Linked DNA regions of Homo sapiens. The protein of the gene in region 2 purifies or fractionates together with the protein of the main gene of each other region. This does not show direct contact. Each region holds a gene or a part of one and is shown on either strand. Other genes may lie near its edges.

The links.
Region 1: the proteins of HBEGF (region 2) and OCLN purify together in Homo sapiens (affinity purification with mass spectrometry; one large-scale study listed by BioGRID and IntAct). This does not show direct contact.
Region 3: the proteins of HBEGF (region 2) and GPC4 purify together in Homo sapiens (affinity purification with mass spectrometry; one large-scale study listed by BioGRID and IntAct). This does not show direct contact.

Annotation. Positions count from the first base shown.
Region 1 is NC_000005.10:69,506,290-69,509,789, reverse strand, and holds part of OCLN (occludin), read right to left. Parts: intron 650-3,500; coding exon 1-649. UniProt on the Homo sapiens protein: May play a role in the formation and regulation of the tight junction (TJ) paracellular permeability barrier.
Region 2 is NC_000005.10:140,332,343-140,336,603, forward strand, and holds the end of HBEGF (proheparin-binding EGF-like growth factor precursor), read right to left. Parts: intron 3,686-4,261; coding exon 3,530-3,685; intron 2,407-3,529; coding exon 2,334-2,406; 3' UTR 2,316-2,333; intron 1,939-2,315; 3' UTR 501-1,938; downstream 1-500. UniProt on the Homo sapiens protein: Growth factor that mediates its effects via EGFR, ERBB2 and ERBB4. Required for normal cardiac valve formation and normal heart function. Promotes smooth muscle cell proliferation. May be involved in macrophage-mediated cellular proliferation.
Region 3 is NC_000023.11:133,405,490-133,408,989, forward strand, and holds part of GPC4 (glypican-4 precursor), read right to left. Parts: intron 1-3,500. UniProt on the Homo sapiens protein: Cell surface proteoglycan that bears heparan sulfate. May be involved in the development of kidney tubules and of the central nervous system.

The DNA.
Region 1 (3,500 bases), about 71 Mb from region 2:
CAAATACTGATCCACGTAGAGTCCAGTAGCTGCAGGTGTATAAAATTGGTTGCAGAGGGCATATATTTGTGAACCATATAGAGATCCAGAAGACTGAGCAGTTGGGTTCACTCCCATTATATAGACAATTGTGGCAATAAACACCATGATGCCCAGGATAGCACTCACTATTATCACACTTAAGTAGTATCTTCTTGTTCTGGACATTTCAGATCTTATAACACTGGTAACAAAGATCACCAACGCGGCAATGAAACAAAAGGCAGCCATGGCCAACATGAAGCCCTTTGCTGCTCTTGGGTCTGTATAGCCTCCGTAGCCATAGCCATAACCATAGCCATAGCCATAGCCACTTCCGTAGCTACCAAAGCCACTTCCTCCATAAGGGTAGCCTACACTACCTCCTAAAAGGGAAGTTCCATAGCCTCTGTCCCAGGCAAGCGTGGAGGCCACACAGGCAAAGATGGCAATGCACATCACAATAATGAGCATAGACAGGATCCGAATCACTCCTGGAGGAGAGGTCCATTTGTAGAAGTGAAGAATTTCATCTTCTGGGTAAAAAGAGTAGGCTGGCTGAGAGAGCATTGGTCGAACATGCATCTCTCCACCATATATGTCATTGCTTGGTGCATAATGATTCGGTTTGCTGAAATGAACATGAAAATAATTTCAAGTTAGCATTTTTTGGTAGTAAGCAGAAAGAACACAACTTATTTGGAATAATTTAAACCATTGGGTAAATGAAACTAAAGCTTATCTGTGCACAGGAATCACCTGGAGGGCTTGTTAAAACATAAGATTATTGGCCTCTAGCCACAACCCATTCTGCTCAGACATTTGGGTTATCTCTGTTTGGGGGTATTGTAAACAGTTTAACTATAAACATCCTTGAATGTGTATTCTGGTACGGAACAGTACTTATTTTTCTAGGGTATATAACCAGGAGAATTTCTGGATCACATATTTTTATATCTTCAACTTCACTAGACAGTATCAAACTGTTTTCCAAAGTGATTGTACCAATTACCTACAGTGGAATGGGTAACTGTAATATATCCATACAATGGAATACTCCATAGCTATACTGTCCAATGTGGCAGCCACTAGCCACTTGGGTCTATCATACACTTGAAATGTATCTAGTCCGGCTGGGCACGGTGGCTCATGTCTGTAATCCCAGCACTTTGGGAGGCCAAGGCGGGTGGATCACTTGAGGTCAGGGGTTCAAGACCAGCCTGGCCAACATGGTGAAACCCCATCTCTACTAAAAATACAAAAATTAGCCAGACGTGGTGGCATGCGCCTGTAATCCCAGCTACTCAGGAGGCTGAGGCACGAGAATTGCTTGAACCCGGGAGGTGGAGGTTGCAGTGAGCCGAGATCGTGCCATTGCACTCTACCCTGAGTGACAGAGCAAGACTCCGTCTCAAAAAAAAAGAAATGTGGCTAGTCCAAACTGAGATACGCTGTTAAAATGCACAGTGGAGAGTCTGAGGTGGGCAGATCACTTGAGGCCAGGAGTTTGAGACCAGCCTGGAGAACATGGTAAAACCCTATCTCTACTAAAAATACAAAAATTAGCCAGGCATGGTGACACATGCCTGTAATCCCACTTACTTGGGAGGCTGAGGCACGAAAATCAAGAATCCCTTGAACCCAGGAGGCAGAGGTTGCAGTGAGCTGCGATCACACCCACTGCACTCCAGCCTGGGTGACAGGGCAAAAAAATTTAAAAATGCACAATGGATTTCAAAGATATAATATGAAGAAAGAATGTAAAATATTTCCTGAATCATTCATTTTTTACATCAATCACGTGATGAAGTAATGTTTTAGATATACAAGATTAAGTGAAATATATTAAAATTAATTTCTTCTTTTGGCCAGGCACGGTGGCTCACGCCTGTAATCCCAGCACTCTGGGAGGCCGAGGCGGGTGGATCACCTGAGGTCAGGAGTTCGAGACCGGCCTGGCTATCCTGGTGAAACCCCATCTCTACTGAAAATACAAAAACTAGTTGGGCGTGGTGGTGTGTGCTTGTAATCCCAGCTACTTGGGAGGCTGAGGCAGGAGAATCACTTGAACCCAGGAGGTGGAGGTTGCAGTAAGCCGAGACCGTGCCATTGCACTCCAGCCTGGGCAAAAAGAGCAAAACTCTGTCTTAAAAAAAAAAAATTATCTTTTTATTTTTAATGAAAGTATAAAATTACATATATGGCTCATGTTATATTTCTACAGTGCTATGAAGCCAAAACTGATGAACTATGAATACATGCAGTTACAGGTAATGCTGAAAAAAATGAAAAAATACATATCGCATTATTATATTTACATAAAGTTTTAAAACAGGTAAAACTGGCCAGATGTGGTGGCTCACACCTATAATCCCAGCACTTTAGGAGGTGGGCGGGTCACCTGAGGTCAGGAATTTGAGACCAGCCTGGCCAACATGGCGAAACCCCGTCTCTACTAAAAGCATAAAAATTGGTTGTGCATTGTGGTGGTTACCTGTAATCCCATCTACTTGGGAGGCTGAGGCAGGAGAATTGCTTGAATCCAGGAAGTGGAGGTTGCAGTGAGCCAAGATTGTGCCACTGCACTCCAGCCTGGGCAACAAAGTGAGAGTCTGTCTCAAAAATAAATAAATAAAACAGGTAAAACTAAACTGAAATGTTTAGGATATACAAGATGATAAAATGATAAAAGCAGGTAATGATCATACGTCAGGACAGTGGTCTCCAGAGAAAAGGAGAGGACACAGGGAAGGACTTTGAAGTGTTCTGTTTCTTGACCTGGGTGATGAGTATGTATGTTTGCTTGGTCTTTCCTCATGATCTCCTACATATGTTCTGTGTCCTTTTCTTTATGTATGTTGCAGTTCACCATTATTTACAAAAGCAACACAAAATAAGTGTCAGATTAGTGGTGCATTACTCAATTACTATATTCTCTAGTATGTTTTAAAAACTGTATTGTCATAAACAACTTGTGTCCCCACCATGTTTTAGGCACTAGTAAGGAGGTTAAAGAACTGGAACACAACCTTCACGTGATATTGTAAAATATGTATTTAGTCTTCATCTCCATTTTCTGGCATACAACTCCTAAAATCTTTGGACTCTCCAAAGTGATAAGTATCCCTTATATGCTAATGAGATGATAGGTTCCTGGCAGCCCTAGGAAGCTTCAGGATGGGAGCTAGGATTAGAGGGTTGGAACTTTTCAGCCCCAACCCTCTCTGGACAGGAAAGAGGGGCTGAAGCTTAAACTGCTCACCAATGGCCAATGATTTAGTCAATCATGCCTATGTCATAAAGCTTCCATAAAAACCCAAAAGGACCGAATTCACAGAACTTCTGGACAGCTGAACATGTGCAAGTTCCTGGAGGGTGGCACAACCAGGGAGGGCTGCTTCCCACATACCTCGCCCTGTCCACCTCTTCATCTGGTGTTTGTTGGCATCCATTGTAATATCATTTGTTTGTTCATTCATTCA
Region 2 (4,261 bases):
CATGTATTCTAAAGGTAGGGCTGACAAGATTTGCTGATGGATTGGCTGTGGAGCAAGATAGGGTAGTCAAAGACATCTTGTTCTTGCCAGAAGCAATGCCTGCTCATATGTGCAGCATAGGAGTAGATCCTGAGTCCAGGGCCTGTTGACTGAATGGGTGGATATCTTCCCTGATTACAGCCAGCTAAACATGCTGTGCGAAAGATCTGTTCTTTCTTATCTCAGAGATAGCATGGTATAAGTACTAAGACAAAATAATTGGAGCCAGACTACTAGTCCCAGCTCTGTCATTTACTAGCTGTGTATCCTCAGGCAAGTTACACAACCACTTTGAGCCTCAGTTTCCCCTTCTGGAAAAATGGGACAGTAATAGTACCTGCATCGCAGAATTGTTGTGGTAGTATACATAAATAGGCCTGGTATAGAGCCTACCACCAAGTCAGGGCTTAGGAAATAACTAAGTTAAACCAGTTCCCGGTTAAAACAAACAGACAAAAGGCTATGGAATAAGGGTTATCTTTATTTGGATTGCAAAGTATAAATATGAACCAGGTTTGGAAATACAAGTTGTAACAGTTCAGAAATGGCACCAGAAACTTCCAGAAAGGACCATGACAGCATAACTTCATCGTTTTGGTGAGGTGGGTGGGATTATACAAAGCCTTCCCCACCTCCAACCTTCTCGGTAGCAATTGGCAGGTAATCAGTTACCAAGAACAGTCAGCTCCAATGTTCCCTGTTCCTTCTCAGCCTTTTGCTTTGCTAATACCTTCTCCAGACTGTCCTCTGCTGCACTGACCCCTGCATGGAGTAGCACCAGAAGAATGGCAGGAGTTAGAGAAATGTCTTGACACAAGGGAAAGTGAGTTCCCACGCTGTGGGCCTGGGGCCATGGGGGTGAGGGACCAGGAAAGCTACAGGCATGGAAGCCCAACCTCTTCTGAGACTTGGCAGGGAGAGGACACGGGGAGACACTGATATCTGTTACACTTTGACATCAGCACCTTGGGCTTTCAAAACACAAATGGTAGACAAAATCGCCTAGGCAAGACTGAAGTCCAACTCATAGAGTGGCTCTGACCAAGTTAACCCCTACATCCTGACCATACAGAGCTCCCGCAGTGGCACTCTGACCACGGAAGATCTGCAGAAATGTAGACAGACAATAAATTACTACAGATGGGTCACAGAACCATCCTAGCTTTGTGGCAAAGGTGGGTGGCACTAAGCCAGATTGTGGGGATGAGGAGTGGAGGGCCAGGAAATTGCCAAAGTAACAGTCTAGGCACTTGAAATATTATTGTTAGATTGTTAAAAACTAAATAAATTAACATACATAGAATAAAATAAATATATAATTTAAGAGGCATTTACAAACAACAACAACAAAAATAGTTGTTATTTTTCCATCTGGGTAGAAGTCCCAAAATTCAGTTCTCAGGCTTGTGGTATTTCACAGTTAACTCATCAAATCCAGCACTGGAGGGTCCCAATGGCAGATCCCTTGGTGGTACTTGAGTACATGGCTTCTCAATCTTTGTTGCTTTCTTCCAGTTCACAAATCTTTCCTTCTTGCTCTCCTTCTTCTTCTTCTTTTTTTTTTTCAGTCAAAGATCCTGGAGCATATGGAATTTAACCGGCATTCTAATCCAGAAGATAAGTGTTTAAACAAACTTATGAGGGGAAGTGGGGTTTGGTGGAGGGGAATCAGAAGGGCATGAAGGTCCCTTGCTTTTGCTTTCTTCTTACCCAGATACCATCGGACATACTCTGTTTGGCACTTGAAGGCTCTGGTATTTTGGCAAAGCAATTATGGGAGGCCCAATCCTAGACGGCAACTGGGGACGAAGGAGTCTTTGTGACTAGATGGAAGTCTTTCCCCTCTGCAGTCTGAAATCACCTTGTGTCTTCTCAGAGGTAGCAGTCCCCAGCCGATTCCTAAAGCACAAAAGGAAGGCATGTAAAGCCAGGTCCAGTCTAAAGAAGTCTTAAGATTTTCCTGGTCCAGTCTTTTTTATTTTTAAACTTTTTGAGACAGGGTTTCACTCTGTCTCCCAGGGGAGGAGAGGGGAGGGGAAGGGAGGGGATGAGGGTGGGAGAAGCTGTCCTCTCAGGCATCTCTCTTAGGTGTCTCTCTAGCAACTTTTACCTTAAGTGAAGCACTGAGTCTTTTTGAAAATAATTCTGCAATGGGATATTAATGTCACAGTAGCCTGGCCCCCAACCCCTATATGAAGAATTCAGCACCCACTGAAGCACAGCCAGGAAAGGGGACAAAGGATAATCATGTCATGGGGCAAAGGATGGAGCGTTACCTTGAGCACAAGTCTCTCTCAGTGGGAATTAGTCATGCCCAACTTCACTTTCTCTTCATTTTCCACATCATAACCTCCTCTCCTATGGTACCTGAGGAAGATAAGTTTTGTGAATAAGCCCTGCCTGCTATGACAAAGTGCAGGTCCAGAGCAGGTCCTTCCAAAGAACTCTGCCATGGTGGTTTCCTCTACTACTTGGAAAAGCCCAGGCAGTAGGGCAGCCCAAACTCTGGTCAAAGGCCCAACTGCCCCGAGGAACTCCTGTCTCTAATAGCAGGATGCAATTTACAAATAGCTTTCACCTCATTTACGTGATCCTCACAACATCCTTATGAGGTAGATGGACAAACATTACAATCACTACAAGGTTACAATCCTCAGAAAGACAGTAACTTGTTCCAGGTCTCATGACAGATGAGTTACACTGCTTGAAAACAGGCATAGAGCTAGGCACGGTGGCTCATGCCTGTAATCCCAGCACTTTGGGAGGCCGAGGCGGGCAGATCACGAGGTCAGGAGATCGAGACCATCCTGGCTAACATGGTGAAACCCCGTCTCTACTAAAAAATAGAAAAAATTAGCTGGGTGTGGTGGCGGGTGCCTGTAGTCCCAGCTACTCAGGAGGCTGAGGCAGGAGAATGGCGTGAACCCAGGAGGCGGAGTTTGCAGTGAGCCGAGATCACACCACTGCACTCCAGCCTGGGCGACAGAGCAAGACTCTGTCTCAAAAAAAAAAAAAAAAAAAGAAAGAAAGAAAACAGGCATAGAGTGCTTGGTGGGTCTCCCAAGCTAGAGCATACCTGGATTAGAAAGCAGGGCCTGAGGTCCAGACGCCTCAGAAGTGGAAGGATATACCACTAGCACCACCCACACCTTGACTACCAAACCACATACTAATGCCATCAAAGAACAGCCAGGAGAAAGAAATGTGTGACAAAGTGACTCCATGAGTGGGTAGCTGGGTCATGGAGGCAGGAAAAGAACTCCTGTGAGGAGCAGAACCTGCTATGGCCTCGCAAATTTGACCCTGGGCTCTAGACACAGGACTCATGTCATGCCAGAAATACCAGGTTTTTGGAGAATCTACACCCCGGAGCTAGCCCATGATTTGGAAAGATTGAGGGAAGTGCATGTGACCATCAAGGAGAGGGCCCAGGAGGAGGAAGAAAGGGAGTGATTTGCAGAAACAGCCTGCAGGGGACCCCAACACTCACCTAAACATGAGAAGCCCCACGATGACCAGCAGACAGACAGATGACAGCACCACAGCCACCACGGCCAGGATGGTTGTGTGGTCATAGGTATATAAGCGATTTTCCACTGGGAGGCTCAGCCCATGACACCTCTCTCCATGGTAACCCGGGTGGCAGCTAGTTCAAGACAGAACAAGAAGGAGATGGAGTTAGTGCTTTGGCCTCTCTTGGCAATGGCCCACCTGCATAAGCCAAACCCCATTCCTCATACCCTCAGCCTGTCAATCCCTGACCACGATCCCTGCCCATCCTCCATCCTTCTCCTCTAGTAGAAAACTCTTTAAAGCCCCTCTGAAAGCTCTGTAGCATTCCTCTCTCACTTGACACCCTCCCCTTTTCCATTTCCTCTGGTTCTCTGGGCTGAGAATCCTGTTCTAGGCATGGAAAAAGCAAGGGAGGACTTGAAGGCCTCAGCTAGATATGTTCCACGTGTGGCTGATTTATGACATGTGTGTTCAGGCGTTCTGTTTAAGCCACTTATGAGGGCTTGGGCACAAGAGCTGGTAGGCTAAATTGAGGGAATTCGTATCACTCCCTCCAGTGAGGCCCCTCAACATTCTGACCCAGAAATAAACCCAGCCTTCCCCATCGTGCTTCCAGCGTCCAGTCCCTCTCCACTGCTGTCCAGCCTATTAATAGGCCCTGTGCCTCTGCCAGGAGTCGTTTTTCTCAAGTTTCCTTCATTTAACTCCA
Region 3 (3,500 bases), on a different chromosome or scaffold from region 2:
GTGCCCTCGATGATTATGGTTACAAAGGTGGCTTTGAGCATTCGCCCATTCTAGGAGATCTCAAACTGCCAAGATCAGCAAGTTCTGGCTCTCCCATTCAGCTTCTGGTCACCCTCCAACTGTCCTCTCTCACTTCTTCCAGATGTCAAGTCTTACCTGCCTCTAACACGATCCCTTCCTGTGATTCCCATCGGCCCCCAACCAATACCATTTGCTACTTCTAATCTGCCATAGACTGGGAAACTGGATAACCAAAGCATTTTATCTTCTCACGTATAAACCCTATCTACCTAATTTGAATGCAAGTTCCTCAAAAGCTTGATTCCTGCTTGACACCTCTTGGAATCCCCTGCACCCAGCATACTGCTCTGGATACAGGAGCCATTCAATGATTGCTGATAATAAATTTCTGAAGGCCTTTTCTCCACATAGAATGCATGGGCTTTATGACAGCTGTTTCCATCATTTGGCTTTTCTGCTTACTTCCACATTCCCAGCTGTGTTCTGGATGGTTGCACCAGCTAGAAGCCTAGGGATTTACTGTACTTCTATTTCTTGATAAGATACTTGAAGAGAATAAACACATGGCAAAGAGGACATTAAAGTAAGGGATAAAGAGATTTATTTTAATTTTACCAATAAAGAAAAAGGGAAGAAATATCACCTAGCATGTTGACACTTAATCAATAAATGACAGCAAGGCTGGATTCTGTTCTAATTCTTTCCAAAGTATTCTCATTGTGCTTGTCTTATGTCTCTACCTGCAGCAAAGCAGCACTCAGTTGTGGTTCACACTTATATCTTGATTGAAAACATTTTCCTCCATGTTTGACACACCTTTCTCTTAAATCCAAGTTAGCCAAAATTAAAACAACCATGCACTGATTCTAAACTAAAGGCTTTATCTCAAACAACATTTTGTGATGAATCTCATTGGAAAATTTAGAATAATAGAATCTCAGAGATGGAAGGGACCTAGGCCAGGCATGCTGGCTCACGCCTGTAATCCCAGCACTTTGGGAGGCCGAGGCGGGCGGATCACGAGGTCAGGAGTTCGAGACCAGCCTGGCCAACATGGTGAAACCCTGTCTCTACTAAAAATATAAAAAATTAGCCAGGAGTGGTGGTGTGCTCCTGTAATTCCAGCTACTCAGGAGGCTGAAGCAGGAGAATCACTTGAACCCAGGAGGCGGAGGTTGCAGTGAGTGGAGATCATGCCATTGCACCCAGCCTTGGCAACAGAGCAAGACTTCGTCTCAAAAAAAAAAAAAAAAAAAAAAGAAAATTAAAAAAAACTACCATGGGCCAGGCACAGTGGCTCACGCCTGTAATACCAATACTTTGGGAGGCCAAGGTGGGTGGATCACTTGAGGCCAGGAGTTCAAGACCAGCCTGGCCAACATGGTGAATCCCCATCTCTACTAAACATACAAAAAACCAGCCGGGTGTGGCAGCACACACCTGTAGTCCCAGCTACTCGGGAAGCTGAGGCAGAAGGATCGCTTGAACCCAGGAAGTGGAGGCTGTAGTAAGTTGAGATCACGCCATTGCACGCCAGCCTGGGTGACAAGAGCAAGACTCCATCTCAAAAAAAAAAAATACACACACACACACACACATTCATCCATCCATCCATCCATCCATCATGGCCTAGTCCTTCCTGAAAAAAGTATTATTTCATTGGTATGGGGTGGTACCCAGGCATTAGTATATTTTAAAAGCTCCTCAGGTGCCAGGTGGTTCAATTTCACCCCATTTTTCAAAGAGGGAAGAACCTCACCAAAGGTATTTGACAACAAATTTGCCAGAGTTAGGCTAGAACTACTCATCCTAACAAGCCATGTCTTCTCCATGTAAACTACTCCATCTACAACAGTGGAGTCTCTTCCCTCCCTCACTCTCCCTCTCTGTCCAACTATCCCCACCTATCTCAAAGTAAATATATTTTCTGAATATTCTTTGCCTTAGAATCCCATTGCATAATTTTTAAAAACCTAAATGATGTATGTCTGCTTCCCTGTATCCTCATGCTTTTTTTTCCACACAAAGAATCCCGAGAGATCAATCAGGCATGGTTTACCCTTAAAGAAGCCATATTGCTTCTCCCTAGATAGGTTGGACTCAACCCACCCTTTTCACCATTATTATCACACATGCCATCTTTCAAATCCCTTGCAAGATTCAACTTCAATTCTCTGTCAGCCCACTTAATTTCTAGTTTGTACCTGGGCCTTGTGAAACCTAGTGGACTTCCCTCTTCTGGCTTAAACTCTTTGTATTTTGTGAAAGATGCCTTTTTCCCTGAAGCAGCCTCTTTTACTCTGCCAGTTAGTCATGCCGGGTTCTTTTTTTCTTCCCCCGAGCAGTTGGTCTTTTTGATGTCTGGCACACATTTATCTGGGCTTCCAATAAGATGTTTTTACATAGTTTCCAGGCTTCCTGGAGGTTATTGACTTTTTTAACTCTCCCATTCAGTTTTTTCCCCTAATTTCTAACATTTGTTAGAGTTTCTTTCTCAAAAGTTGAATACCTGGCTGATGCAGCTCTTTGATTTTTCTCTCCCACCAGATTGCTGAATTAAATGCATCAGAACTTAAACATAATATTTCAAATTACCTCCAGGATGGAATCGCTTCATGCATTTTCTGCACTTTCATGTTCTCTATAGTAAGCAACAGATGTTTAACCAAGTAGATTTGAAAATGCTAGTTTTTACCTGTTTGTATTTTAGTATGTCTGTTTATTTATATAAAATATTCTGATACCCTTCAAAGCTTGTGTTCTTCTTGGTAAAGACAATAAACTTGAGTTTTTTTATGTTAAAAGGTAACTGATGCACACTGAACAGTTGCATGTGGTAAATTTGCTCTAAATTGCCTAATCACAACAGTCTCAACTGTTCATTCTTTAAAGAAGTGTATCTCAAGGCATTAAGAAAAACAATTCTGAATCTTTCTGAAAAATTCCTGGCCAGTGCAGTAGCTCATGCCTGTAATCCCAGCACTTTGGGAGGCCGAGGTGGATCACCTGAGGTCAGGAGTTCAAGACCAGCCTGACTAACATGGAAAAACTCCATCTCTACTAAAAATACAAAATTAGCCGGGCATGGTGGTGCATGCCTGTAATCCCAGCTACTCTGGAGGCTGAGGCAGGAGAATGGCTTGAACCAGAGGCGGAGGTTGCGGAGAGCTGAGATCGTGCCATTGCACTCCAGCCTGGGCAACAAGAGCGAAACTCTGTTTCAAAAAATAAAAAAAAATCCTATAAGCATTCAGTTATTAATGAAGTGGTAAAGACAAGTACTCCCCCAAAAGAATAAAAACGTTCTCCAAGCTATACCAACATATGCATATTTACTTTAAATTTATTTCACTTCAAAGTGTTTAGATACAGGCCTGGAATGGTGGTTCATGCCTGTAATTCCAGCACTTTGGGAGGCTGGATCATTTGAGGTCAGGAGTTCTAGACCAGCCTGGCCAACATGGTGAAACCACGTCTCT